4 linked regions of the Homo sapiens genome follow. The protein of the gene in region 1 interacts with the protein of each later gene in a pairwise test. Each region holds a gene or a part of one and is shown on either strand. Other genes may lie near its edges. The genes, in order: KIFC3, TFIP11, CDK18 and CWF19L2.

Evidence for each region.
Region 2: the proteins of KIFC3 (region 1) and TFIP11 interact in binary tests that used the Homo sapiens proteins (3 or more experiments, as listed by UniProt).
Region 3: the proteins of KIFC3 (region 1) and CDK18 interact in binary tests that used the Homo sapiens proteins (3 or more experiments, as listed by UniProt).
Region 4: the proteins of KIFC3 (region 1) and CWF19L2 interact in binary tests that used the Homo sapiens proteins (3 or more experiments, as listed by UniProt).

The regions. Positions count from the first base shown.
Region 1 is NC_000016.10:57,757,545-57,764,491, forward strand, and holds the end of KIFC3 (kinesin-like protein KIFC3), read right to left. Parts: intron 6,704-6,947; coding exon 6,599-6,703; intron 4,727-6,598; coding exon 4,596-4,726; intron 3,993-4,595; coding exon 3,869-3,992; exon of another isoform or gene 3,771-3,868; intron 3,628-3,770; coding exon 3,498-3,627; intron 3,412-3,497; coding exon 3,182-3,411; intron 2,873-3,181; coding exon 2,738-2,872; intron 2,293-2,737; coding exon 2,184-2,292; intron 1,610-2,183; coding exon 1,605-1,609; 3' UTR 1,581-1,604; intron 1,366-1,580; coding exon of another isoform or gene 1,340-1,365; 3' UTR 673-1,339; downstream 1-672. UniProt on the Homo sapiens protein: Minus-end microtubule-dependent motor protein. Involved in apically targeted transport. Required for zonula adherens maintenance.
Region 2 is NC_000022.11:26,490,740-26,495,473, forward strand, and holds the end of TFIP11 (tuftelin-interacting protein 11), read right to left. Parts: intron 4,201-4,734; coding exon 4,058-4,200; intron 3,920-4,057; exon of another isoform or gene 3,566-3,919; coding exon 3,400-3,565; exon of another isoform or gene 1,630-3,399; coding exon 1,274-1,629; 3' UTR 934-1,273; coding exon of another isoform or gene 724-933; 3' UTR 501-723; downstream 1-500. Other genes in the region: SRRD (SRR1-like protein), read left to right, coding at 286-331, 724-933. UniProt on the Homo sapiens protein: Involved in pre-mRNA splicing, specifically in spliceosome disassembly during late-stage splicing events. Intron turnover seems to proceed through reactions in two lariat-intron associated complexes termed Intron Large (IL) and Intron Small (IS).
Region 3 is NC_000001.11:205,506,755-205,515,328, reverse strand, and holds part of CDK18 (cyclin-dependent kinase 18), read right to left. Parts: intron 3,013-8,574; exon of another isoform or gene 2,869-3,012; intron 1-2,868. UniProt on the Homo sapiens protein: May play a role in signal transduction cascades in terminally differentiated cells.
Region 4 is NC_000011.10:107,454,088-107,462,701, forward strand, and holds the start of CWF19L2 (CWF19-like protein 2), read right to left. Parts: upstream 3,739-8,614; 5' UTR 3,730-3,738; coding exon 3,625-3,729; intron 1,690-3,624; coding exon 1,579-1,689; intron 486-1,578; coding exon 363-485; intron 1-362.

The sequences.
Region 1 (6,947 bases):
GACACCCCCAGGATGCCTCCAGGGGCAGGACTAGAAGGGCACCTGCCCCTTCCTCTGAGCAGGGCTCCGATCAGCTGTCACTCCCTGCTGGAGTCCCCAGCACTGGCTGGCGGGAAAGGGCTCCCTGCTCCGTGGGCACTGCGACAGGTGGGCCCCCTCCTGCTCCCAAGGCAGGGACCAGGTACAGCCCCGCCCCGGGGTGGTCAGGGTCCTCGGCACTGGAGGAAGGTGGCGTGGACCTCTGGCCAGTTCACTGAAGAGGGAAAAGGCCAGGGCAAAGAGTGGGCAGTGGGTGGTGCCCAGCAGTAACCTGGAAGCCCAGCATGGTTTGGGCAAGGCTTTGATAGCCTTTGAAGCTCTCTCCAGCCTTAGTTTCCTTCCCATCAGTAACATGGAGGAATGCCCCTGTTGGGAGGTCAGTTATCGTGGGCACATGGTAGGTACCGCATGAGGCGACTGTGACCACAAACAACAGAGAAAGTGACCCAGGGTGGGACAGCGCAGGCTCCCCCCAGTTGTTTGTTAAGGACGCATGTCCCTAACTGACCTAGAGGACAGATCCCAGAGGGCTGTGGGGTGACCAGCCAGCGGGGGAGTCCACAAGACCTGCCAGTGCCCCGTCCCCCTAATCAGACCAAGAGGGGCTCACAGACCAACTTTTTCAGACCATACTTGTGTAAAAAGGCTTCTTTTATTTTAATAAGTAAAAATGGCTAAGCTTCCAAAAGTTCTTAAATAGGATTTCAGAGGGAAGAAAATTCGAGAGACCAGCGAGCCAGGCAGGTGAGCGAGCAGCAGAATCCCCCACCCGCTGGCTGCCTCTGCCAGCCATAAACACAGCACGGCCCCGTGGCGGGAGGCCATGCGCCTCCGCACACCCCCCAGCTGCGGGAACCCTCCTTGAAGGAGAGGGGCGGGGAGGGCTGCCATTGGTGCCACCAACCCACCCCAGTCCCCATGGTTCTTGGGTCTGCCCAGAGGCTCCTCGCCCACCCCCTAAGGAGGGGGCTGGCCAGCTCTGCAAGCTGAGGAGAGGGGCCGAGAAAGCCTGGGTGAGAGGCCCACCCTCCTCCACACTCCCGCCCTCCTCACGGGGCCCAGTTCGCTGATGGCCCAGGCCTGCCAGGAAGAGCAGCCACCCCCGCCTTTCCGCCCATGCAATTTGCACTCAGAGCCACAGCCGAGAGACACCGTTTCCTTCTGAACATGTTTCTCATCTTTGAGGGGAGACGGGGCAGAAGAAGAGCCTCCACTCTCGCCTCTACCTCCGGGGGTCCTGGCGCTGCAGCAGGGACAGGCCAGTGAGGGCCCAGCTTCAGGCCCAGCGGGGTCACATCCGTCACACAGGCAGTGGCCGCGACTTCCCTGCAGGGGCATGAGATCATCAGCCTCTTGTCCACTTGCCCACCGGCAGCCCACAGCAGTTGCCACCGAGAGCAGGAGGGAACCCAGCAAAAGCACATAGACAAGCGACAGCAGGGGCTAGACCCAGCTCTGAACAGCAGAACGTCCCAGCGCAGCCCTGCAACCCACTGCGGGCAGGCAGGCGGGCAGCCCTGGGCCACAGGCCCCACACTCACCTAGAGACTCTGCAGCCCCAGCCGTCAGGCTGAAATCAAAGTGACAGGCGTCTCACTGGTGGGCTTGCCTTGGGCCAGTACCCCACAAGACCCTGCTGCTGCTACCCCTTTGGACTCAAGGATGGGCCAGGCCCTCCCATGATCTGGGCTAAACAGGGGCTGGAGCCCTGGGTCCCGGTCCTGTGGCGGGGCTCACTCCTCACCTAGGAGGTAGGCAAGCCCGGCCCTTTCTACCCCCGGGGCAGCTGAGGCACAGGGAGGGGGCTGCAGGGGCTGCTCTGGAGGGGGCTTACTGCACAGGCTCAGCCAGCCCATGCTCAGAGAGCAGGGTCCCAGGGTAGAGTCAGCACCCCCGGCTGAGAGGCTGGGGTCTCCTTACACTGCCCCCTTCCCACAGACCTTCCATTTCCCACCTGCAGAACGGACACAGCACTGTCTGCCCTGACTACTGCCTGGGGGCAGGGGAGGTTGTAAAACAGGTTCTGGAGAAGGTGTAAGAACTTTTTAAAAAGGAAAGAAAAGAGAAAGCCCATCCAGGTAAGGGCAGCCTGGTGACTATTACCCTGGGGAGACTCCCCACCCACACTGCCACTCCAGGCTCACCCGAGGGCTGCAGCTTCCTCCGGATGGATCCAGGGCGGCTACTGGTCCCAGAGCTGGGGGCTGAGTGGGCCCGTGCCGAGGGCTGTGGCGTCTGACAAGCCGGCTCCCACTGTGAGCAGGGAAGGGCGGATGGGCGGGGGCCACGGCTGCCCTGGCTCCCCACCCTGCTGTGCTTCTCTCTACTCCCCTGCCCTGCCTCCTAACACCCAGTTTCCTCATCTGCAAAATGGGCATGATGTTTGTGCCCCAGCCTCAGTTATGGCAAGAATTAAATGAGATAATTCATGTAAAGAAGTCAACTAGTTACCACTGAGCATCTACTATGTGCCACCCCCACGGCCAGCTCGTCACCCCACAGGAACCTCCGAGGCCAAGAAGAAATACCTGTACTGAAGAGGCTGCTGGCTGTGGGTTCCAGCCGTAGCTCCACCCAACTCCGGCAGCTTCCCTGCCCCCACTGCTTCAGGACGTCCCCGCCCAGCTCCCTGCTCCTGCCATGACCCAAAGTCTCTGACCCAGGGCCACCTGAGCCAGGCCTGTGACAGTCCCCGTACCTCTAGATGCTCCTGGCTTGACCAGGACCCAAGCTCTGCCCTGCGTAGCCCAGGCCCCAGCTCCACAGAGCGCACCCTCTCAGCAAACTTGAGGGAATAGAGCGTCTCGCTAGTGTTCTTCTCCACGGGGGACACCTAGGGGACACGAGAGCTCACTGCCCACCCGGGCCAGCTGGAGGGGCAACAGGGTCACGAGAGGGAGCTCACAGCTGGGGCCGTCAGAAGGCTTCCTGGAGAGGCCTGAGGGATGGGGTGGGAGGGCAGGCAACATGGCAGAGGTGCTGTGGTCAAAGGTGGAGAGGAGGGACTGGGAGTTACACAGGGTGTGTGTGGCCAGGTCTAGGGGCGGGGAGGTCCATTTGCACAGCCTGGGGTGACTGGGTCTCACTGCTAGCGTAGCCCCTACATGCTAGGGACTGGCCCGCCCTAACCCAAGGTCCTCACCTGTACCACCATGAGGGTCTTGCTGTCACCACTAAGCGAATCCTGCAGCAGGTAGGTGAGCTTGGAGTTGCGGAAGGGCACGTGGCCCTGGCGGGAGCGCAGGGCAGCAATGACGTCCCCCAGAGCCGACAGCGACTTGTTGATGTGCTGCGCCTCCCGCAGGCGGCTGCCCTCGGCCCCCGACTTGCCCACGCGCTCCGAGCCAGCCAAGTCCACCAGGTTCAGCTTCCCTGCAGGGAAGGCACCCACCAGATCAGGCCTGCCCTGCCCCTTGGGGTTGTGGGGATCCTCAGGCCAGGCTGCCTGCCACTCTCACCCGTGGTGCGGAGGCCTGTGCTGCAGTCCACGCCTCGCACCGTCACGATGAGCAGCGCGTGCGAGCGGGAGCTGTGCTCGTTCAGGTTGGTGAACTCGGTCGTGCGATTAGTGTGGCCAAACTCAAACACCTGGGGGATTGGGAGGAGGGCAGAGGCACAGCGTTGAGAATGGGGTCCTCAGAGTCACCTGGCCCCAAGCACCCATGAGGAGTGGCACCACCCTCCGCAGTTTAGATGAGGAAACTGAGGCTCAGAGAGGCGTGCGGACTTGCCCAAGGGTGCGTGCTTAGGACACAGCAGAGCCTACATTCAAACCCAGTTGTGTCCTCTAGAGCAGTGTGGCTGTGGTCAGGGGCTCCCGCCTCCACACCTTGTTGATGTCGTCCACGCTCTGCACTTGGAACTCAGTCAGCCCTGGTACATACAGCTGCCCACTGCCGTCTGGGCACAGCCGGATCTCCAGTTTTTCCTGAGGCTCTTTCCCTAGCAGGTCCCTGGAGGGGCAGGTGAGACAGTCACCCCCTCCTCCCATTTCCAGCTGCTGTTTGCACTGCACCCAGCCCCCCAGCCAGGAATGTTCCCCCAACCCAGGAAGCCTTCTCCAGCCATCAGCTGAGTGCATCTCTCCTCCTCCAGCTCCTCCACCGCATTCAGCTGAAGACGTGGAGATCTCACTCCACAATACAATGAGCCCCTGTTGGCAGGGCCCCTAGCTGCCCACTCTCACCCATGGCCACCTGGTGTAGCCCACAGGTAGGGGCAAGGATTGCCTGGGTCTCAGAGAGAGCCCCTCCTCCCCCCAGAACCATCCAACCCACTGGGCTGAGTCAGGACTTGCAGCCAGGTCCCTTGACGGCCTCATCTGGTCCCTACACTCCCTTCACCTTGACGGCCTCATCTGGTCCCTACACTCCCTTCAGGAAGACCCCACTTCCTATCCCCCATTGCTCCAGCACCACCCCTGAGGATCCCAAAGCTGCCCCTGAGGCCTGCTCCCCACATACTGGGGGTCCCACCTGAGGACCTCGTTCCAGCACCACCCCGGAGGACCCCAAAGCTGCCCCTGAGGCCTGCTCCGCACACCCTGGGGCTCCCACCTGAGGACCTCATTGTAGATCTCCGCAGCGCTGACGGTGATGGTGTACTCCCAGTCAGACGCCTTCTCCTGCACCTCGGAGAAGAGCAGCTGCAGGGCCCGCTGGTTGATACCTGGGTTCTCAGCGGTCCCCTGGGGACAGAAGGAAAGGCCCCAGTAAGCCAGGCCTGTCCCCAAAGACGCTCGTGTGGTGTCTGTCCCCAAAGCCCCTTGACTACCCCTCACAAGCAAGCCTCCTTGCCCAAAGCTCTTACCTACCTGCCACTGTCCCCCAAAATGCCCTCCACCAGCTGCGGGCAACTGCACCTCTATTTCCCCACCATTAAAATGGCATCGCCCTGCCAGGACTACCCTGAGACTTATAGTGCAGCACTGGGATGAGGGGCCTGGCCCAGACCCCACACAGGGCAGCTGAGGGCCAGATGCATGCCTGGCCCTGTGGGGCCACCTGGGAGGGGCACTGGAAATGAATGACCCCGCCACTGCCCAGAAAGGCGCTCAGTCTCAGGGAGGCTGAGACCTGGGCTCTGTGGGTGGTAGAGAGGAGGCACAAGGAGGAGCGGGCCAGTGTCCTGGGGAAGGACGGGTGGGCCGGCCTTTCTAGAAGGAAACCTGGAGTCCCCACCCGGGACCTCGAGGCCCTGGGAGCCTGGCCCTCACCCCTCTTCTGATAGCACCTCTCACTCACTCTCTATTCCGGCCACAGGGGCCTCCTGGCTGGGCCTCAGGTGCCCCTGGCATGCTCTGGCCTCTTGGCCTCAGCCCTGCAGCTCCCTCTGCCCCGGGTACTCCTCTGACCGCCCCTTGGCCGGCTCCGTCATCTCCCTCAGGGAGGCTGCTCCCAAGATGCCCCCTCAGGGAGGCTGCTCCTTCGCCCAGCACCCCCAAATGCCCTGTCCCTCCCCCTAGTCAGTTCCGCATTCCTGGCTTTATTTTTCTCCCTGGCCTGACAGGACACTTGCTGATTTGTGTAGACCCTGCTGTCTCCCCACAGCCAGGTTGGCCCTGTGGGGAGGGCCCTCTGTGGGGGCAGGGACTGTTTGGGTCACAGCTGTGCCTGGCACGATGCCTGATACACCTTATGCATCAGCAGATACACTTGAGGATGAACGCTCTGATGTTCCTGGTGGTCACCTCAACACTAAGCAATCCCAAAGCAGAGCGGGGAGCCCAGAGGATGCCGCACACATCCCCTTCCTCCTCCTGCCTGGCCTGGCCTGCCCCCACTAACTAGTCTCACCAGTCCCAGAATCGAGGGAACAGCAGAGTCCAGATGGGAAATAAGAGGGCCGCCCAGCAGGCCTGGCTAGCCCCTTCCCCTGTCCAGACGCCACACCACCTGGCCTCCTCCTGACCTAGGGAATCAATCCCACAGCACCCCTCAGAGCCAGGGCTAGCTTTCCACTGCCCTCTGCCCACAGTCAAGATCCTTCCTAGTCTCAACGCCCCTCTCCCTGGCCTGCCACCTGCTCCACCACACCTGGGAGGGTGCCGGTGACGAGCAGGGAGAGGAAGCCTTGGCCTGGCCCCAGGGACCACCGGCAAGAGCTGGGCTCCCCACAACAGCCTTCATATGCCAGTCTTGCCCTGGGATCTCCTTGAGGACTGAGACCCGCCACTCATCCCAGATCCCCCAGGCCCGGCCCAAGGCAGCGGTAAAGCAGGAGTGTGCAGTGCACACTCAAGGTGAAATGCAGCCCTGGTCCTGAGAGAGGTCGGTGGCCTGCCCCAGACTCTGTCCCCAAGCCGAGATCCCTGTGATGATAGTCCCCCCTTGCCTCTCTCCCAGTCCTGCTGGGCCCATTGTGGGTGCCCTTGGGCAAGGGGGCCCCCTCTTAAGGCCTGGTGCCTCAGGGCTAACACAGATAACTACAGCCTCTGCTCCTGGGTTGTGAGGACCAAATGAGGCAAAACACACACTGCACAATACCCCAAGACCAATGAGGGAGCCCGCATTCCCTTCATGCTTCACTGTGAACCCCCACCCCATTGGGCAGCACCCACCTCCATCGTGTACGTCTTGCCGGCGCCCGTCTGGCCGTACGCAAAGATGCAGACATTGAAGCCATCAATGCAAGAGGTGACCAGGGCCTGCACCTCCTGGAACACCTGGGAGGGTGGTGGGAGGGAGGCTGGTGGGGGGGCTTCCAGGGCCGCTGGGACCACCAGCTACAAGTCCAGCCACCTCCCCAACCATGCTGTCCTTCAGCAACACCACATCACGTGTTACTGCAGTCACTCAGCTCACAATGATTCGTGACTCATGAGTCATACATTAGACAGTAGTGGGCAACCGGGCCGCCCAAAGACTGCAGGGAAGACAGGCCAGTGCCTGCTGCCCTTCCCCCAGCTC
Region 2 (4,734 bases), on another chromosome or scaffold:
TTTTAGTAGAGATGGGGTTTTACCATGTTGGCCATGCTGGTCTTGAACTCCTGACCTCAAATGATCCGCCCGCCTCAGTCTCCTGAAGTGCTGGGATTACCTGCGCCTGGCCCACATTTTCAACTATTTAACTGGTTTACTCCACATCTTGAGTTTTTTCCTGAATTCTTACTATGCTTCAATCATCTTGCCCTTCTATGTGTCTTAAAAGTTGAATGAAACTATCCTCATACCTCCTAATCATGGTGTTTTTTTTTTGTTTTTTTGGTTTTTTTTAATTTCTAGGTTGTTGGCAAGGATTCTGCAGAAAAATTATCCCTACATTGCAAAGGTATCTATCTGAATAAAGGGGCTGGGATGGAAAAGGGTGTGAAACTGTGAAGAATTCTATCTTTCTTTACAGGCGTAGGAGGAAACTCATGGGCTAAGTGGCGCTAGTGTACTGTCAGCTCTCTCCATGGGTCTGTGTTCCAGAAAGCTATGACTCTTTAATGCATCTCTTAGTTTTTTCCTTATTTCCTTTATTCTTAGTATCACAGTCCATGATATCCACTGTCCTTGGGGCGCCCAATTCATTGTGCAAAAGCATTTAAATCAAAATACCCTATTTGTTATTTTTTTAAAAAGTAAAGTGGGGATGACAAGTAAAGTGGAAATTTATCCCAGAAGAGTGGGGATTACTGTGACTATCTGAAGTTTTTATACTTGAATTTTTCTGCTCAGATTTTAAAAGGACTGGAGGAGCTTGAGTTTCCTCAGACTTCACAATACATGGACATATTTAATGATACCTCTGTCCACTGGTTCCCTGTGCAAAAGCTAGAACAGCTCTCCATAGATATTTGGGAGTTTCGGGAAGAACCAGATTATCAGGACTGTGAGGACCTTGAAATCATCAGGAACAAGAGAGAAGATCCTTCTGCTACTGACTGAACTCGTTGTGAGGTACTCAGTGTTGGCTGAGGTAGAAGCTGCCACCAGAGACTAAAGGGAAGGCTGCTATGGAGGAACTACAGAGAACTCCTTTGCCAGGAAAGAACATCAACTTGGCTGTCCTGTTTTGAGGACGATACCCCACATGAGGACTTGGTATAAAGATTCCTGCCCTACGTGGCATTGTCCCATTTTACATCCTTCCCTCATGACCTGGCCTGATGTGGAGTAGCTCCTGAGTAAAGAAGTTACCCTTTTGAAGGTGATCTAAAAATACTGTTTATTTACAGTACATCCCTCTTAGGGGCAAGTCTCTGACTGGTTCTGGACCTGCCACAGTTCACTTGGCCATGTCGATCAGGCTCTGCAGTGAGGTGGGCACCCACGTCTTCTCGCCCTGGACAAAGACCACTCCCCGGTCGATGTAGATCACAATGCGGCCAAAGGTGTAGAGCTGCTTCCCTTCGTGTCGCTTCCCAATGACGGGCATGAAGACAATGTTGTGCTCCTCAGCCTTGGTCTCAATGAGGTCCTTAAAGTTCATGGGCACAGAGCTAGCGGCCACGCCAATGCCCCTCTGAGCCATGTTCTCAGCCTCCCGCCTCTCCTGCATGGCCTCGTACTGGAAGTCCTTCCTCCGCTCCGTGTGGGTGAGATAGGCAATGTTCTCCCGTGCTCCTGGCTGCATGTAGGCACCTAAGATACAGGAGGACAGGGCGGTGAGGAGAGGTGTTTCCAGGTGTATGGAAGTTGACACTGTGGCTTGGCCCAGGTCTTGGGTGTGCCAGAGTGCTTGTGACTCACTGAAGGGCAGCTCTGCCTCAAAGATACAACTTTGGAGGAAGTTTAGACGACTGGCCAGTATCACATAAAAACTGTTCAGAAGGTTCCTGGCTAGTATCTAGTAACCAGATTATTAATATTCAACATTTTAAAATGAAGTATCTGCAAGGGATTTCTTCCTTCAGAGCTGGAAACATTAACAGAGAGTCCTCAGCCACTCTTCTGTTCCCACCTTGCTCTGTAGAGTTTCCATTTCCCACCACCAAAGAGGCAGCTTTTAGTACCTTGAAAACATAGGGCCCATACTGGCTTTATTTTTAACCTACCCACACAGGGCCCCCATCCTGAAAGAAGTTCACATATATTTAGGGAGCTGAAATGAGTGTTTAAAGGATAATACCAAGACCATAAATGCTAAGTGCTAATTGAGGGGTATATTCAGGGAACAGTTTTGGAAACATGAGGCCAAGGGTAGCTAAGGAAGAGTTTTTAGAAAAAACTTGATAATTACAGAAGCAGAGAAGTATATTTGCCTTATTACTTAATCTCTGTTTTCACAGAATAGGCTATTTTTCTTTTTTTTTTTTTGAGACCGAGTCTCGCTCTTGTCACCTAGGCTGGAGTGCAGTGCTTGCAATCTCGGCTCACTACAACCTCTGCCTCCCAGGTTTAAGCGATTCTTCTGCCTCAGCCTCCTAAGTAGCTGGCATTACAGGCATGTGCCACCGCGCCCGGCTAATTTTTGCATTTTTAGTAGAGACGGGGTTTCACCATGTTGGTCAGGCTGGTCTCGAACTCCTGACCTCGTGATCTACCCGCCTCGGCCTCCCAAAGTGCTAGGATTACAGGCGTGAGCCACCGTGCCTGGCCTAGGCTATTAAATAACAAGAATTAAAGACTCAGGAAATAGAAATTCCAGTTCTAACTGCCACCCTTTAACTATGTGACCTTGAACAGGCTCTCAGCCTCGCTGGGCTTATCTGTAAAACACAGACTAGACGATCCCATTTCAATGCTGCGAATCGGCTAATGAGCAACACTGGAGCACAGGACTGGTTGAAATAGGCTCCCAAATGTAGAAACATAAATATACTCTCACTTACTTATGATCTAGGCAGAATGACTTACCTAGAACTTGGGAACAGATATAGTACACGAACAGTGAACTGCCTGTTTTTGACAACACAGACACCACCTATTGAAGGCTATACACAAGCATGAACTCACTCTCCCTTTTAGCCTATAAAGTAGATCTTACTGTTTAACAGGTAAAATGGGGCTGATTAAGGCTGAGCAATCACCAAGTGTCAGACCGCGTGCCAAACTCCACACTGTAAGATGCGTCACCTAAGCAGCATGCTCAGGCATGAATGAGCCTTAAAAGGCCACACAGCACAGTGGTTAAGAGGGCGGGGCCTGGGGTTAGACTGACATCATCTGAATCCAGCTTAAGTCAGTCTCCACTCAGGGAAGATGCCCCTCTCAGTCATGGTAGACCTGGGCAGTGGGTGCCAGCTGACCATGTACCCCAGTCAGCAGGGTGAGAGTCTGTTGCTATGTGCAAAAGTGTGACCTAAGGTTTAGGCTGCCTACAGGAACCAGAAAACTCTGATTCTGTGTCATTTACATGTGTAAAATCTGAAACTTGGGGCCAGGACATCCAAAATGGGAATCCTCACTTACCAACGTTGGAGGACACCGCCCGGTTCATGATATCAAGTGCCTCATTAAATTTGTCCTTGACAGATGGATGTGCCAGCACTTGGTCTGAGAACATCGACTTCCAACCCAGGTACCACTTGGTGATCTCCTCATAATTTGGGCTGTTACTGAGCCAAGAGCACAGCACCTGCCAAAAAGAAAAATTACTTGCATCCATCGTGGCAACAAATGAAGGCAAGATTTCTGAAGTGGCCATTTGTTTTGTTTTGATCCTGGTCCTACAGGCTAGTGACACTACTTTACAGGGATTTATAGTAGCTAAACAGTCTAGCACTTATGAATATGGATTTTGGAGTCAGCCTGGTAGCTAAAGTGCCCTTGCATGTAAACTCTCTGAGCCTCAGCTTCCATGTCTACACAACAGGGATACCATATCCCCTACCCCATAGGGTTGCTGAGAGGAGCTGAGATAAAGCAAATAAAGTGCTTGGAACAGCTTCTGATACATGGCAAATGTCCAATAAATGGTGCCCACTATGAAGATGACCTAACTCATTCCTACCCTACCATGTAATTTATTTTCATTATGGAATTGTACCTACAGTCAGGCCTTGGCAGAAAATTAACTTAATCCCCACCCAGTTCCCTCCCCCAGAAATCCAAGCAAAACAAAGTGTACCTGAAGCCACTTGGGGAAGAAGTGCTTTTCAAGAAGTCCCACCAGGCTAGAGACAGAGATCATCCCTTCCCAGTCAATCACCCAATAGAATGCATCCATGTGCTGCTGGTGGGGGTTAATGACTAGCTCACCAAGACACATCCCTGGAAGAGAAACCCGGTCTGTAAGGCACAGCTTTAGTACTGGCAAAGCCAAAGAAGCACAAAGAGCAAAGACAATGTCCGTTTTCATCTCAGCTTACAGCAACCTCCGCCTCCCGGGTTCAAGTGACTCTTGTGCCTCAGCCTCCCGAGTAGCTGGGAGTACAGGTGTGCACCACCGTGGCCAACTAATTTTTGTGTTTTTATTAGAGACAGCGTTTTGGCATGTTGCCCAGGCTGGTCTCAAACTCCTGGTCTCAGGTGATCTGCCCACCTCAGCCTCCCAAAGGGCTGGGATTACAGGCATAAGTCACAACTCCTGGCTTTTTTTTTTTTTTTTTTTTTTTTTTTTTTTTTTTGTTGAGACAGGGTCTCACTGTTGCCCAGGCTGAAGTGCAATGGCAGATCTTGGCTCACTGCAACCTCTGCCTCCGAGGTTCAAGCCATCCTCCCGCCTCAGCCTCCCTAGTAGCTGGGACGACAGGCGCCCGCCACCACACCTGGCTGGTTTGTATTTTTGGTAGAGATGGGGTTTCA
Region 3 (8,574 bases), on another chromosome or scaffold:
GGCACACGCCTGTAATCTCAGCTACTTGGGAGGCTGAGGCAGGAGTATCGCTTGAACCCAGGAGGCAGAGTTTGCGGTGAGCCGAAATGGCGCCACTGCACTCCAGCCTGGGTGTTGCAGCGAGACTCCATCTCAAAAAAAAAAAAAAAAAAAAATCCTTCAAAGCTAACACTGCCTTCAGGAAAAAGTTCAAATTCCAGGGCCTGGCAGACCAGGCTTTTGGATCCCTGTCTTCTTGAGCCTCAGCTCTCACCCCTCCCCAGAAGGTCTGGTTTTATCAAATGTACCTGGCATTCCCAGAGCAAACTCCACTCACACCCCACAGCTTTGCAATCATTTGGCCTGGGATGCCCTTCCTCAATTTTTCCCTCGGTAAAACCACTCCCAAACTCAACTCATGGGTCACTTCCCCTGGGAGACTGTGCATGACCACACCTTCTTCCTCTAGGTAGAATGAGATGCTTCCTCCTTGTCCCTTCCAGAGCAGCCAGCACACACTCATAACTAGACTGTGAGATCCTTCAGGACAAGAATGGGGCCTTAACATTTTTGTTTCCCTGATGCCTTACACAGAGTAAGGAGCCCACCAGGTACTCAGCATTTGTGGAACGAATGAACAAGTGACTGAATGAGGCCATCGAGCCACTGCTTCATGATGACTTGTTTAAACCTCTTTCCTCTACAGATATGGAAACATTAGATCCCTCAAGGACAAAGACTGTATCTTAGTCACCTTTAAGATCCAGGACACACTGCCACGTGCAATAAATGTTGGTGCCTTTCCTTCCACTTTCAGGCAGGCCAGGGACCTGTTTCTAGGTGTATCTTCTCATTAGGCCATCTCCTGTCCTAGTTAGACTTGAGCATGATTGGGGTGGGCCTGGCCCTGTCCTCTTTCTGGGCACACTAGAGTAAGCCTAGACTGTCCAGTCACCCAGCCCCAGACTCCCCGGGGCATGCTTCCTCCTCAGTTTTCTTGGGTTTCAGAGGGAACAGGAATACAGGGATTGGTACCCAAGCAGATGGATGGGGGACTAGGGAGAAACCAACAACGTGCTACTCATCCTGCCATGGGGACCTCTGCATCTCCTCTAGCCCGAAACTCCACTGTCCCCAGCCAGGTGATGGTCCCTCTTCTGTGCTCCCACAGCTTTCTGACATCCCAAGGCAGGGCACTTGGCTCCCTGTCCTGTAACTGTTTACTTGTCATTTCCCTAGTTTGCCTGTGGGCTTTTTAAGGGCAAGCACTGTGGCGTGACTCGTCATTGCACCCCCAGAGCCTGACCCAAAGCCTGAGACAAAGTGAGCCCTCAAATGACCAGCAAATGAAATATGAAAGCTGGACTCGAGGCCTCAGCTGAAACCTGACCCTCTTCCTCTAGCCAGCATGTGGCCCAACAGCAGCGGGAGATGGGCTGAGGCAGTGGGGGCAGTGTCCTGCCCAGCAATTACTCCCCCAGTGAGGTCTGTGGAGGTTTTTGGGCTGGAGGCACCATCCTACAGTGAGGGGTGGACTGGAATGAGAAGAACCCGAATGAGAAGTTCCTCCTGCAACATGCATTGAGCTAGGGCCTCCAGGGCTGTGGGGAAGGGGTTCGGAGGGGCTTGTGGCCCTCTTCCTGGCTCTATCACTCAGGGAAGATTCTCAGAGCCTTGTAGGGCAGGTGCACTACTCAGGCTCAGATGTTGGCCTTGACCCCTACAGATGACCCTTTCTGACCCCACACGACCTCCTATCTAGCCCCTCTGTGTGGCTCCACTTCAGTCCTACTGATGTCCACCCTGCTGCTCTCTGGCTTCCTGAGGCTTAAGGAATAGAGGTGCATATTGCATCTTCTGGTATTTTCCTTTTGACCTTTTTTGGGGGCCCAGCTAAAGCTGGTCTGCACTCTCTGAGGAGGCTCAGGATGTCCAAGTGATAAGATGGGACAAGGAGCCCTTCTGTCAGTTCTGGTCCTGGGCGTACAGAACATCCCAGATCAGAGACCAGAGCAAGGGGCAAGGGCCAGGATAGGCCTGGCCTCCATCTCCCCCATCCTCCTGCCTCCAGAGAAAGCCCGCCTTACTCTCCCAGCCAGAGGAGCCCTCTCTGCTCCTTTTATCAGCCCTCTTTAAAGACACTCAAGGAAGGTCCTTCCCCAACTGTCCTGTGTTTTTGAGATCCCAAAGTCTGGAACCTTTCCTTAGGTCTTCCTTAAATACCAGAGGAAACAGCTTGTTTCCTCTCCACTTGCTCTGGCACAGAAACTGGTGCCTACCATCTTTTACACAATAAATTGGAGAAGAAAAGAAGAGTGTTGAGTTCACCCACCCAATAGCCCTCTCTCAGCCAGATATCCCGTGTCCAGCTCTCCTGCTGGCCTGTCATGGGACCTTCAGTCCTGTCTCTGGGTTTCTCTCCATGCCCAACTTTGGCAACAGAACTGCAGGGGCCTTTGAGCCTGGCATCCCTGGGGACCTCTCAGTCTCAGGAGGGGGAGGGAATGGGGAGGATTTCCCAGCATCTCTAAACCATATTCCTATTTATACTCCACCCCCACCAGCTGGCCCACGCCGCCCAGTGCCCACATTCTGACAAGAACCCCTGGCTGGTCGTCTCCAACTTTCCTCATTCCAATCTGAGAGACTAGCTTAAAAAAAGCAGCTTCATGTCACCGCCAAGAACTCCACTGGGCTCCTCTGACCAGCTCCCAGCTTCTGGTCACTTGGATTGCCCCGCCTCTCCCTCCTCACACTCCGCATGGCCTCCCTCCCACCAGGCTGGGCCCAGGAGGCCTCCTTGGCCTGCATGGCCTCCCCCAGGCCTCTGAACATCTCATAGTTGTTCAACTGTTCTCTAAATGTCTTTTATCAGTGTCACTCACTCACCAGGGTTCAGCCTCCTCAAAGTCACTCACTCATTTCACAAGCACCTGCTCAGCGCCAGGCACTGTCCTGGGCCCTGGGCCTCGGATTCCACTCCCTTTGGCTGCCTGGGTCTCCTCCTGCTTCTTCCTTCCTCCCGGGTCTGGTGGACTTACTTCCTCTACCTGTCCCTTGAATGTCAACACTCCCACAATTCTCTCTTTGGCCCTTTGCTCTTCCTCTCTGGGCATGCTTCCTGGGTGACCTCATCCCCTCCCGAAGTGGAAACCACCACCCGCGTGCTGATGACTCCAGATCTGTAGCCCTGGCCCCACCAAGCCCCTCAGCTCCAGATGCTTGGGTGCAGCTGCCTTCTGGGCACCCTGCCTGTGTGTCCCCCAAGGGTTCAGTTAGAGGTATGTGTGTGTGTGTTTTCTTTTGGAGACGGAGTCACCCAGGCTGGAGTGCAGTGGCGTGATCTTGGCTCAGTGCAACTTCTGTCTCCCGGGTTCAAGCAATTCTCCTGCCTCAGCCTCCCAAGTAGCTGGGACTACAAGCGCACGACACCACACCCAGCTAATTTTTTGTATTTTAGTAGAGATGGGGTTTCACCATGTTACCCAGGCTAGTCTCAAACTCCTGAACTCAGGTAATCCGCCCGCCTCGGCCTCCCAAAGTGCTAGGATTATAGGTGTGAGCCACCGCACCTGGCCAAGATGTGTTTTTAAGTGAAGAGGACAGATGTGTACAGTTTGTAAAAGCTGTACGTATGCAGGATATACACATGTGTCACAGGCATGCACATATAAACACAGCACACTGTTAGATAACCCAGAAGGTGGTAAGTCAAAACACCAGCAGTAGTTATTCCTGGGTGATAGAATTATGGGTGATTTTAATGTCTTCTTTTTGCTTATCTGCATCTTCTAATATTTCCATAATGAACATTTATTGCTTACATAAGAAGAAAATAGCAACACTTCTTTTTAAATGAAAAGAAAGTACTTTTAGATTGAGATCCTGGAGCAGTTTAGTGCAAGGCCTGGAGAGAACTATGATTATCTTGAGCAGGGGTCAGCAAACCTTTTCTGTAAGAGGCCAGACAGCCACTATTTTAGGCTTTGCGGGCCATCGTCTCTGTCGCCACTCTGCCACTCTGCCTTTGCAGCACAAAAGCACCCACAGGCAAGATGTAAATGAATGAGTTTGGCCTCACACCAGTAAAACTTTACTATGAACACTAACATTTGAATTTTATAAAATGTTTAAGGGTCACAAAACTTTATTTTCTTCTTTTGACTTTTTACCGACTGCTTAAAAATGTAAAAATCATTCTTAGCTCATGGGCCATACAAAAACTGTCGGGACTTGGCCAAGAGCCATGGTTTGCCAACCCCTAGCCTTGAGCATCCAGTGCCTGTGTAGTGTTTGAATCCAGCATCCATTTCTTTGCGAGGTAGTTGTTCTCCTCCTAATTGACAGGGCTGAGGCATTCCAGGATTTCCTTGCCCATCTCAGCATGGCAGGGACCAGGTACCCAGCCATCAGCTGGGGCAAGCCCCTGGCTCTACAGTTTGGAGGAACAGGAGGCTGAGCCCCTCTTGGGACCCCAGCACACAGCTCACCTTGTTAGCAGGACAGGCAAAAGTCGGAGCCTCAGACCAGCAGCCTCAGAGGGGCCTTTGGAAATCCCCTGGTCTGCACCCTCATGTTTCAGGCAAAGAAGGCAAGACTCAGAAAGGTGAGCGATCTGCCCGAGGCCACTGAGGGTGACAGGGCAGAGCTGGGACCACACTTTGGGCTTCTGACTTTGTGCAGGGTTGGAAGGGACTGCATGGGCCTGCGTAGAGATGGCACTCCCTTTATTGGTCACCACAGCCAAGAAAGTCACAGCATCCCCAAGGGCCACCTTCCTTGGGAAGGAGCCATGCCAGGTTTGGCACCCACACAGAACATGGCACCCAGCCCAGCCACGGCAGGGGATGCTGCCAGCTGGGCTCCACGGCAGGATCAGGGAGGGGCTCTGTGACCCCTTTCCTGGGCTCATCCCATGTTGCAGGCAGAGTTTGGGAGCCAGTGCTGCTTTGTCAAGAGTGATGCCCTCTAGCATAACACCTACCGCCCACCTGCTTCCAGGCAGTGGGTCCTGCCAGGATGTGGGAAGGACAGCCCTGTCACCTCCTGGGCTGGTCACCCCGCAGCCCAGGGTGCTGGGTGGCTGGGGCCAGAGAAGAGAAGAAGGTCTGGTTCCTGAGGAGACTCCCCAGGCAGAAAAGGGCAGGCTTCTTTAGGGAAGCAAGGTGTGAGGGCAGTAATCATTCTGGAGCTCTGAATTTCCCTCGATAATGATAAGATGGGGAACAGTGTTCAGAGTGAGGGAGGGTAGAAATTTTTTTTTTTTTTTTGAGACAAAGTCTTGCTCTGTCACCCAGTCTGGAGTGCAGTGGTACAATCCTGGCTCACTGCAACCTCTGCCTCCCTTGTTCAAGCGATTCTCGTGCCTCAGCCTCTGGAGTAGCTGGGATTACAGGTGCCTGCCACCATGCCTGGCTAATTTTTGTATTTTTAGTAGAGATGGGGTTTCGCCATGTTGGCCAGGCTGGTCTTGAACTCCTGACCTCAGGTGATCCACCTACCTCGGCCTCCCAAAGTTCTGGGATTACAGGTGTGAGCCTCTGTGCCTGGCCAGAAACATTTTAAGAATAGAGTTCTCTTCCCAATTTGGGGGCTGATCCCTGATGTTTGCAGGGACCCTGATTTCAGAAAAAAATATCAAGTGGGGCCAAAGGCACTGAGAACTACCAAATGTAGCCCATTAACTCTGCCACCACCCCTTGATAATGACATCAGGTAAAGCAAAGAGCTACTAGGTGGACATTATCTCACTGGAGTCCTCGCAATCACATGAGATAATAGTATTATCCTCCTATTTTATAAATGAGGAAACTGAAACCTGGGTGAGCAAATTACTTAACCTAAGGCAACCAGTTACTGAGTGGAAGAGGCAGAATCTGAACTGACCCCAAAGTCCATAAATTGCCTCCACCCATGGTGGACAGGAGACATACACTCAACATATAAATAATGATGAGTGCACCAGCCAGCCATTATTGGGTCATCTTGTCTATCCCGACTCCACCATTTCTAGGGAAGACTTTTATTTAATGGTGGGGGTAGGGAGGCTCAGAGGGTGGGACCATTATCAAGAGCTCCAGGAAAGAGGATCTCATCATAGTCCTTTCAAAAGTTCTGGCCCATGTCTCCCAGAGCAAGGTGTCCAGTCTCTTCAGGGTTACTCATGCTGTCAGGGAGCTTTGCTTCAAGACCCGTTTTTTGTTTTGTTTTGTTTTGTTTCTCGCCCAGGCTGGAGTGCAGTGGTGCGACCTCGGCTCACTGCAACCTCCACCTCCTGGGTTCAAGCGATCCTCCTACCTCAGCCTCCCGAGTAGCTGGGATTACAGGCACACGCCACCATGCCTAGCTAATTTTTGTATTTTTAGGAGAAACAGGGTTTCATCATGTTGGCCAGGCTGGTCTCAAACTCCTGGCCTCAAGTGATCCACCCGCCTTGGCCTTCCAAAGTGCTGGGATTACAGGCATGAGCCACCACACCCGGCCTAAGACCCTTTTCAATTTTTTTTTTGACAAGTTCTTGTTCTGTTGCCCAGGCTGGAGTGCAGTGATGCAATCATGGATCACTGCAGCCTCAACCTCCTAGGCTCAAGCGATCCTCCCCTCTCAGCCTCCCGAGTAGCTGGGACTACAGGCGCGTGCCACCACACCTGGCTAATTTTTGTATTTTTTTAGAGATGGGGTCTTGCCATGTTGCCCAGTCTGGTTTCGACCTCCTGGGCTCAAGCAATCCGCCCACCTCCCTTTTCAGTTTAAAACCAAACCTCACACTTGCCTCACTACCCCTCCTCCTCTGCAGATGTAGCTGTGGAGATTCTAGGAGCAGATGGGCTCTCTTTCAGACAGGAGGTCTGGCGGAGATGCGCCCACGGCTTTTCCTCTTCCAGACTTGCTGCTGAACCACTGGCCAGCTCCAGCCAGGCCCAGCTACCAGCTCTGTAGTGATCCTGGATCCCAGACCCTTGGCCTGAGCTGTTGTGAGCCCAGCCTGTGTGTGCATGTGCATGCAGCTGTGTGTGTGTAAGCAGCTGTGGGAGCCAGGACAAGATTAACCTTGGTCTGCTCCCACCCCCTGGATGTGGGAAAGTGCCCACTCAGCAGGGAATGCCTGGAGGGCAAAGGTGAAAAGTCCAGGGAAGGGGACGTAAGGGGTTATGGTGGGACACAGAGCCGAGGAAGAGAAATGTGACTTATTGCCAAAGGTGGGCTAATCAGGTGGGCCTGGAACCAGGCCAGCCACTCACCCTGAACAACAGAGCAGAACAGGGACTGCAATTAATTAAGTACCAGGGGAGGGTCCTCCTACCTCAGGGAAAGAAGGCGCTGCCAGAGGGCCCTCAGAGCAAGAGACTGCTGCCTCTCCAGCTCCCAGTGCCTGCCTCATTCATAACTGCCAGAAGGTAGGGCCCCCACAGCACAGATTCCTGGCCCCTCCTGGAAGATTTCCATCCAACCCATTCCCCTACCACCACCACCATTCTCTTACACAGAGCCCTCCTCCCTAACCTGGAAGAGCAGTAAAGATTCTGTCTAACTAAGGGCTTGGCCTGATGGGGCTGGGAAAATCTACCTTGGTCTCTAGACCAGCCCTGGTGCAATCACCAGGAAATTCCCTTTCCAAACAAGCACCACCAACCACTATAGCTACCAGTTATTTAGTCTCTGCTACATGCCAGGCACTGTGCATTATTTTTTTTTTTTTTTTTTTTTTTTTTTTTTGAGACGGAGTCTCGCTCTGTCGCCCAGGCTGGAGTACAGCGGTGCAATCTCGGCTCACTACAACCTCCGCCTCCCGGGTTCACGCCATTCTCCTGCCTCAGCCTCCCGAGTAGCTACAGGCACCTGCCACCACGCCTGACTAATTTTGTGCTTTTTTTTTTTTTTCAGTAGAGATGGGGTTTCACCATGTTAGCCAGGATGGTCTCGATCTCCTGACCTCGTGATCCGTCCACCTCGGCCTCCCAAAGTGCTGGGATTACAGGCGTGAGCCACCGCACCCAGCCTAAATCTTATAACAGCCCTCTATTATGATCCTCATTTTACAGATGAGGGAACGGATGCTGGGAGAAATTCACGAGTGTGCTAGTGAGGGGAAGGTCACATAGCTACTATATGCTGGAGCTGGATTCCACCAAGGCCAGAAGTTTGCCCTCCCCTTTAGTTCTCAAGCTCAGTTAGAGAAGAACAGAAGGAATCAGAGGACAGGTAGATGGAGATGCTGGACAAAAGTCCCAACAGGGTGATCCCAGAAAGTAGAGGCTTGGTTAGGGTAGGAACCGGGAAGAGTCAAGCCGGGCTCTGCCCTACAGTGTAGGACGCATTCCCGAGTGCGGGACGGCCCAAGTAGGCAGAGGACAGAGTCCGAGTCTGTAGAGGAAGCAAATGCACCCTGAAAGGCAGCTCCATGTCCTCTAGACCTGAGCGGGGGTTTGCAGGGCTGGCAACCTGATCCCACGAGATCTCAGACCAAGAACCTATTTGCTCCTCAGATCTGGTGCCCTCTCTCCTGTGCCCCATGGAGAAGCCTGGCTCTGCCTAGTGCAGGACAGACAGATGGGAGCCTCAATATTTGGAGCATCACCCCCATTCTTTCTTCTC
Region 4 (8,614 bases), on another chromosome or scaffold:
CCCTGAAGGGAAAGACGCAGGCCTGGCTGGCTTCATCACCTGCTGATTGCAGAGCCCCAGGGCCTTGAGTGAACACCAGCTGTAGCCAGGTAATTGTTACAGCAGGCCTTGGGCAAGATCCAGTGCTGTGCTTAGCAATAATTCCCAAATCATATCCCTATCCTCTTAGCCTTTCTCTGAAATTCAAGATCAACATTTCCAATATTTTCTGGACATCTCTAAGTAGATGTATCCCAGATATTTTCATATCATAACTAGTAATATATTTTTTACGTTTTCTTGTATTTTAACTTCCCATAAGTTACACATTCAAATAAAATGTTCTCAAATAGCTGCTTTGATTAATTTTAGTACATACTTACTGATGAGCTATCAGATGACTCATTGTTTTTTTCATATTTCTGTTTCTTGCTCTTTTTTTTCTTTTCTTTCTTTGCTTTTTTTGAATGCTTGTCTTTTTTCTTCTTTTTCTTCACAGAGTGTTCCTACAATCATTTTGAACAGGCAAGAAAATAATTTAATTTCATCTTAATTTAAAAGGATGTATTCTGAGAGAAAAAAAATAAACCACATTCTAAAAAACTTTCAATCTCTGATGAAATAAGACCAAGAATATGTCTAAATAAATAAAATCTTTCAGGAAATCTTAACACACCTTCTATAATATATGCACTATCAATAAATCATATAACTGAGACTTCTTACCAGAAAAATACTGGGAAAATTTTGGCTTTATTTGTAGATTAATGTGACAAATATAATCAAATAAACACATATATACACAAACATGTATACATGCATCTATACACACACAAACACACATACATATAATATCCCTCTATGGTCTCCCCAAAAATTTATACAAGACTATTAGGCCATAAAAAATATAACAAGATAGCACAAATTAAAATTATAGGAAGAGGCTAGGGGAAGGAGCAAGGATAGGGAAAGGGAAGATGTTGATCAAAGGGTACAAAGTTTTCATGACACTAGAAATAAGTTTTAGTGATCTATTACTGATGACCACATTTAATAATAAGGTATTATCTATTTCAAAGCCATTGAAGAACAGACTTTTAACGTTCTCACCACAAAAAAATAAGTTGATGAGGTGATGGATATGTTCATTAGCTTGACTGAATCTTTCTATAATGTATACATAGATCAAACCATCACACTCTAACCCATAAATTTACACAATTATTATTTGTCAATTAAAAATAATTTTTAAAAAAATTATAGGAAAACAGGCTTGAGACCTAAAAAAATAAAATAAAATAAATACATAAAGCTTAAAATGCATAAATTTTTAGGCCTATAAGCTTGCTATAGTGGGCCAGAAATTTGAAGCTGTCTTCTACTAGCCAAACTCAAATAACAAAACTTGAGTCATAATGTCCAAAATATTACAATATCTTACCTCTGCCAAAGAGATGAAACTATTCAGCAATGCCAACTATGTGATATTCATTTTGTAACTTATGAAAACATTCTATAAAATTATTCATCCAATATTAACTTGAATACGTGCAAAAAAGGACAGATATCCTTACATCACGTAAACCTGTTAGTATTCACCTGTGAGAACTGTTCAATTCTCTCATTCACATCAGGTAGCATCCATGTATCCTCACCCCGAAGTCGCTTAAGTTCTTTACGCCTTTCTTCTTTTTCAAAATTGGCTTTAGCCTACAACCAAAGAAAAAAAAAAGACAAACTGGCAATTGACCCAACTGGGTTTCACAAAAAAAGGAAAACAAAAACCTCTGTCATTTTTATACAAAAATATCCACTCATGAATGAATGTCTATTCCTTGCCAGGGATTTGCTTCTCCAGTGTAAAAAAATAAAAAAATAAATAAATAAACAAAACAAAGCAAAAATCTCTCCTTCTGCATTTCCAATCTCCAGTGATTTGAGTTACCAATCAGAGAGAATCCAGGGACTGAGTCCAGGCCCTCCCATCTCTCTAAGCTCCCTAGCTCAATATGACTTGGAATCCCTTTTCCCTTCACCATTCCCATGGCTACTGCCTTAAGACTTTTGCAACAGTTAGACCTCCACGCCTTCAATATGCAATGCCTGTAGCCCCAATACCCAGCCCCAAAAATGCCTCAGGAAGAATCATCTCTGTATAAAGAAAGGATCATATTGGTAATTTTTATCCATTCTTCAATGATAGTCAAACAAAGCAAGTTTTTCCTAGGAAATCGTTCCTGCCCTCTTTCTTTCCCTGTAACTCCAAAGCTCAGTTTGGTCCTTTTCAAATTCTATGCATATCTCTACTATAAGATTTATCTCAACTTACGAAACTTACTCCCTCCAAAAACTGCTGGAAATACCAAAGAGAAAAGAATGAATAATATATATATACCCACACACACACATTACATATGTTGAAATTACGAAACAATACCAACATTTCACCTACCCAAGACTAATCGCCCACTCTTCCCCTTTAAAACCTGGCTGTAGTCATTTTCTTTTTTTTTTTAATCAAATATAAAAATAATTTATTAAAGGTTTATATCAGAGAACTGCTGAAGCAACAAGAACTAGAAGAGTTAATATTCCAGAAAAGGGAAAATCATGGAGAGGTAGTCCAACATTCTGCAGCTAGCTTTTCCCTGGGTGCATATAATAATTCTTGGTGTAGGCAAGAAGATGAATACAATGGTTATATACCAAACAGAAAAATCGATATCAGAGAAAAGAGCAGGGCTTATGATGGACTCCAAAGAACAGGGTGAGAAAATTGGAGATTAAAGGAGAATGGGGCTGCTTCACCCTCAAATTATTTGCCAAATTTTGAAACTATGTCATTTTCCCTTTAGAGTCTCCTCTCCCTCTTCTCTGCTGGCTCCTTCTCATTTGCATTTAAACTTGTTTAAAACTCTTCCAACTTAAATAAAAACAAAAACCCTCACTGAATTCTCTGTTGCTCTCCAACTGCAACTTTTCTCTTTCATTGCCACACTTCTTACATATTGAATAGATTGTCAGATAATTCAGAAGCTTACTTTCTCCATTCTTTGTATGTTACCTCTATGTATCTGAAGTTTAGTGAGAAATACAATGTTTCGCGATCTTTTGTGACAGGCTAAATATACTGAGATTGGTGTTAACTTTTGTTTGGATTGGTAAGAGCTTACAGTAAGTCTGGAATTGATACCAATAGAGACAGGAGGAGGAAATGTCAAACTGAGTCTATTCAAGTGTGACTTGAATGTGTTTCCGAAAAAGGAAAATCTCATTTCAGATACAGCAGTAGCAATGACTGAGGCTGCGAGACATGCTGGCAGAGTCCTTACAAGCCGCAGGGGACCTACAAAGTGTGCAGTCCGAGTGATAGAAATGTAAAGAATGGGTAACTTAAAAGGTAAAGAAACTTGGAGAAAAAGCGACAGATCTGCCTGAAAAGAGAATTAGCAACTGGCACCTGCCAGAACATCTAAAAAATCGGTAGCTACAAAAGGGTTTACCGGCATTGCAAAGGGAGAACTCACCCAAATTAAGGTGAGATTCAGTACTGACGAGGTAAGGGAAGGGGTGAGTGGGCTAGCTTACGGGAACCCTCAACTCCCACAACAATAAATAACTACAAAAGCCCCAAAACAGAGGTACCTGGCGCAACACCTCGGCCCTGGCATTCCGGGTCTGTTCTTTCCGCTCTTCGATACTCTTCGCACTTTCAAATCTACCACTAGCAGCCGCCATACTTGTTGCCATCGTAAAGCTAAGAAGCCGCAAGAAAATTCTAGTTTACGACGGTCGTAATTTAACAAACAAACCGGGACTTCCGGACCCGAGGAAGGAGGAGCACGGCTCCACCAACAGGGCATGCGCACATCTGAGGTCGCTTAGGGCTCGGATTACCGCAGCCCAGATTTTAAAGACCCGAAGGGTGTTGGAGGGTTTAATTCTTTCAGGTGTTGGGTGCGATTGTGAGCAGGATTAATACCCGTATATATTTATTATGCACTTTTTACTATATTAACAGCTTTCTCACCAATTTCGTCTTAAAATCACCGGAGTAAGTTACAAGCTCTTGGAAGTTAAGTTGGTACCTCTCAAAAGTTTTCTGCGGAAGTACCCTTTGTCGCCAGAGCATCATTTCCCTGTGCTGGAGGAATGGGATAAAGGGAGGCTGCCAGAAAGGTAGTGGCAGCTGGCAGGAAGGACAGAATTGCCTTGAAGATTCAGTGTTTTGTTTTGGTGGATTTTACTTAATATATGAAACACTCATGTGAATTTTGCATTGCACTTCACAATTTACCCGTGCTTAACTTGTTAGAAGTTTACATTATATTTTTTCCTCTGACCCCATATTATTTACTCATACTTATCCATCCAAGCATTTTTCATTACAATGGACAGTTACTTATTTATTTCTGCGGAGATTTCTTTGTTTTGTTTTACGCATGTATCGCCCAAACATAAAACTTTTAAGTTCAGAAGAATAAGACATTCTAAGGTGATGAAGTGCTTTGAGAACATAAGACACTAAGCTTACATTTACAAGAAGAAGAAGGCTGGGGAATTAATTATAAACGATACCTTAAAGACGCTAAAAATAAGTAACATAAGCCAGGTTGAGGTAAATACTCTTTCTCTTCAGGTTTCATAAAATTTAATGTGTGTTTGCAAGAAGCTTTCCAAGAGTTTTTACATTCACTACCATTCTATGAGTCTGAATCTTGAACACACAATGCCTACTTGTTTGATATGCAATAGAAAGTATTCATTTTATTTTAAAATGTAATTTACTAATCGACCTTGTAATATTTAATCAACTGACTACATTGACTGATATTTGTCATAACTAGCATCAACGTCTTTTCAGATTCTCTTGGAATTCAGAAAAACATCCATTTCACTGTTTTGCATCAATTCAATAAAAATAAACTGTGATTATATTAGAAACGTGTGTGTTTTAATCAGTTCAGGCTGCTATAACAAAATATTATAGAATGGATGGCTTATAAATAACAAACAAGTATGTCTTACAGTTCTGGAGGCTGGATAAAATCAAGGTGTTGGGCTATTTGCTGTCTAGTGAAGGTGTGTCCTGGTTCCTAGAGGGCAGTATTTTTGCTGTGTCTCATATGGCGGAAAGGGAGAGGGATCTCTCTAGAACTTCTTTTATAGGAATTCATGAGGGTGCTGCTCTCATGACCTAATCACCTCCCAGAGTCCCTACCTCCATATACCAGCACATTGGGGATTAGATTTCAACATAAGAATTTTGGGGAAACAAACATTCGGTCTAGAGCAATGTGCAAAGTTATATGAAGAAAACTTTAAAATCTTGCATAAGCTCCCCAAAAAGACTAGAACGAATGGAGAGGTATACTATGTGCTTAAAGAAGAAAACATCATAAAAAATCATTTCTCAATTAATTTGTAAATACCATGCAATACAAATAAAACTGCCCAAAAAAAAGTTGGGGTTAGAGAGGGGAACTAGATATGTTAAAATAGAAAAAAGAAAAGAAAAGAAAAGAAAGAAAAAGCAGGTTATTTTGGCTAGGTTTGCATTTGGCCACACCTAATGCGAATCCAGTCACATGGCTTAATCAAATAAAGGATAACGTAACAAGGAGCCTAAAAGTAACTGGTCCAGGCTTGGTGCAATTGCTGAAGGAGCCAAATAGTTTATCCTTTTTCGCTTTGTTGCAGTCTGTGACTTTAGTATTTGTAGTCACAAGCAGGGTATCATATTCTTTCACATCTGTTCACGGCATCTGATAAACAAGAATAAAGAGAAAGGACAAAGGGTAAACGTTGTTAGCTAAGCTGGCCTCATTTTTTATTAGAAAAATGATGGCTTTTCCTAAAGCCTAGTTCAGTTTCTTTCATTTAAATCCTATGATCCAGAAATAGGTCAGATGATCACAATTAACTACAAAAGTTTCATGAAGATTGCAGGATAGTTGTGTTATAGAATGTCACTCAACTTGGGTTTGTCGGAGGTTCTTTTGTGATTAAATTCAAATTTGGCCTCTTAAGCAGGACGATCACAGAAGTGAGGCGGTCTTACTGCATCCTGTTGGGTAGCGCATGATTTCCATTTGTTCCATTACAGGTGATGTTAATTCTGATCATTTAAATAAACTGGCATCTGCAGAGCTTCTCTGCTGTAAAGTACCTCTTTTCCTTCTATAATAAGTATTTTGTGAAGTGGTTCTTTGAAACTATGTAGATCATGTACCAAATTTTCAAGTTATTTATTTTTATATAATACAGATTCATAATTTCTCAGTGGATTCCTGTTTTTGTTCAGTGGGATAAAAATTCGTTATCAGTATTTATTTTGATCCTCAAATTGGTCCAGGTTAGGCCAGTGAGAGCCCTTTCAAGCTGGTTCCTGTGTCCTTTAGACATGTACCCACATTCTTTATATATATATATATATATATATATATATATATATATATATATATATATATATATATACTTTAAGTTCTGGGGTACATGTACAGAATGTGCAGGTTTGTTACATAGGTATACACGTGGTATGGAGGTATGCTGCACCCATCAACCCGTCATCTACATTAGGTATTTCTCCTAATGCTATCCCTCCCCCAGCCCCTCACCCCCCAACAGGCCCTGGTGTGTGATGTTCCCTCTCTGTGTCCATGTGTTCTCATTGTTCAACTCCCACTTATGAGTACATGCGGTGTTTGGTTTTCTGTTCTTGTGTTAGTTTGCTGAGAATGATGGTTTCCAGCTTCATCCATGTCCCTGCAAAGGACATAAACTCATCCTTTTTATGGCTGCATAGTATTCCATGGTGTATATGTAACACATTTTCTTAAACCAGTCTATCATTGATGGGCATTCGGGTTGGTTCCAAGTCTTTGCTATTGTGAACAGTGCAGAGATAAACGTACGTGTGCATGTCTTTATAGTAGAATGATTTATAATCCTTTGGGTATATACCCAGTAATGGGATTGCTGGGACAAATGTTATTTCTGGTTCTAGATCCTTGAGGAATCACCACACTGTCTTCCACAATGGTTGAACTAGTTTACACTCCCACCAACAGTGTAAAAGCATTCCTATTTCTCTACATCCTCTCCAGCATCTGTTGTCTCCTGGCTTTTTAATGATCGCCATTCTAATTGGCATGAGATGGTATCTCATTGTGGTTTGATTGGCATTTCTCTAATGACCAGTGAAGATGAGCTTTTTTTCATATGTTTATTGGCTGCATAAATGTCTTCTTTTGAAAAGTGTCTGTTCATACCCTTAGCCCACTTTCTGATGGGGTTGTTTTTTTCTTGTAAATTTGTTGAAGTTCTTTGTAGATTCTGGATATTAGCCCTTTGTCAGATGAACAGATTGCAAAAATTTTCTCCCATTCTGTAGGTTGCCTGTTCACTGATGATAGTTTCTTTTGCTGTGCATAAGCTCTTTAGTTTAATTAGATCCCATTTGCCAATTTCGGCTTTTGTTGCCATTGCTTTTGGTGTTTTAGTCATGAAGTGTTTGCCCAAGCCTATGTCCTGAATGGTATTGCCTAGGTTTTCTTCTAGGGTTTTTATGGTTTTAGGTCTTACATTTAAGTCTTTAATCCATCTTGAGTTAATTTTTGTATAAGGTGTAAGGAAGGGGTCCAGTTTCAGTGTTCTGCATATGCCTAGCCAGTTTTCCCAACACCATTTATTAAATAGGGAATCCTTTCTCCATTTCTTGATTTTGTCAGGTTTGTCAAAGATCAGATGGTTGTGGATGTGTGGTGTTATTTCTGAGGCCTCTGTTCTGTTCCATTGGTCTATATATCTGTTTTGGTACTAGCACCATGTTGTTTTGGTTACTGTAGCCTTGTAGTATAGTTTGAAGTCAGGTAATGTGATGCCTCCAGCTTTGTTCTTTTTGCTTAGGATTGTCTTGGCTATGCAGGCTCTTTTTTTGTTCCATATGAAATTTAAAGTAGTTTTTTCTAATTCTGTGAAGAAAGTCAATGGTAACTTGATGGGGATAGCATTGCACCTATAAATTACTTTGGACAGTATGGTCATTTTTACAGTATTGATTCTTCCTATCCATGAGCATGGAATGTTTTTCCATTTGTTTGTGTCCTCTCTTATTTCCTTGAGCAGTGGTTTGTAGTTCTCCTTGAAGAGTTCCTTCACATCTCTTATAAGTTGTATTCCTAGGTATTTTATTCTCTTTGTAGCAATTGTGAATGGGAGTTCACTCATGATTTGGCTCTCTGTTTGTCTGTTATTGGTGTATAGGAATGCTTGTGATTTTTGCACATTGATTTTGTATCCTGAGACTTTGCTGAAGTTGCTTATCAGCTTAAGGAGATTTTGGGCTGAGACGGTGGGGTTTTCTAAATATACAATCATGTCATCTGCTAACAGAGACAATTTGACTTCCTCTCTTGCTATTAGAATACCCTTTATTTCTTTCTCTTGCCTGATTACCCTGGTCAGAACTTCCAATATTCAATGTTGAATAGGAGTGGTGAGAGAGGGCATCCCTGTCTTGTGCCGGTTTTCAAAGGGAATGCCTCCAGTTTTTGCCCATTCAGTATGATATTTGCTGTGGGTTTGTCATAAATAGCTCTTATTATTTTGAGATACATTCGATCAATACCTAGTT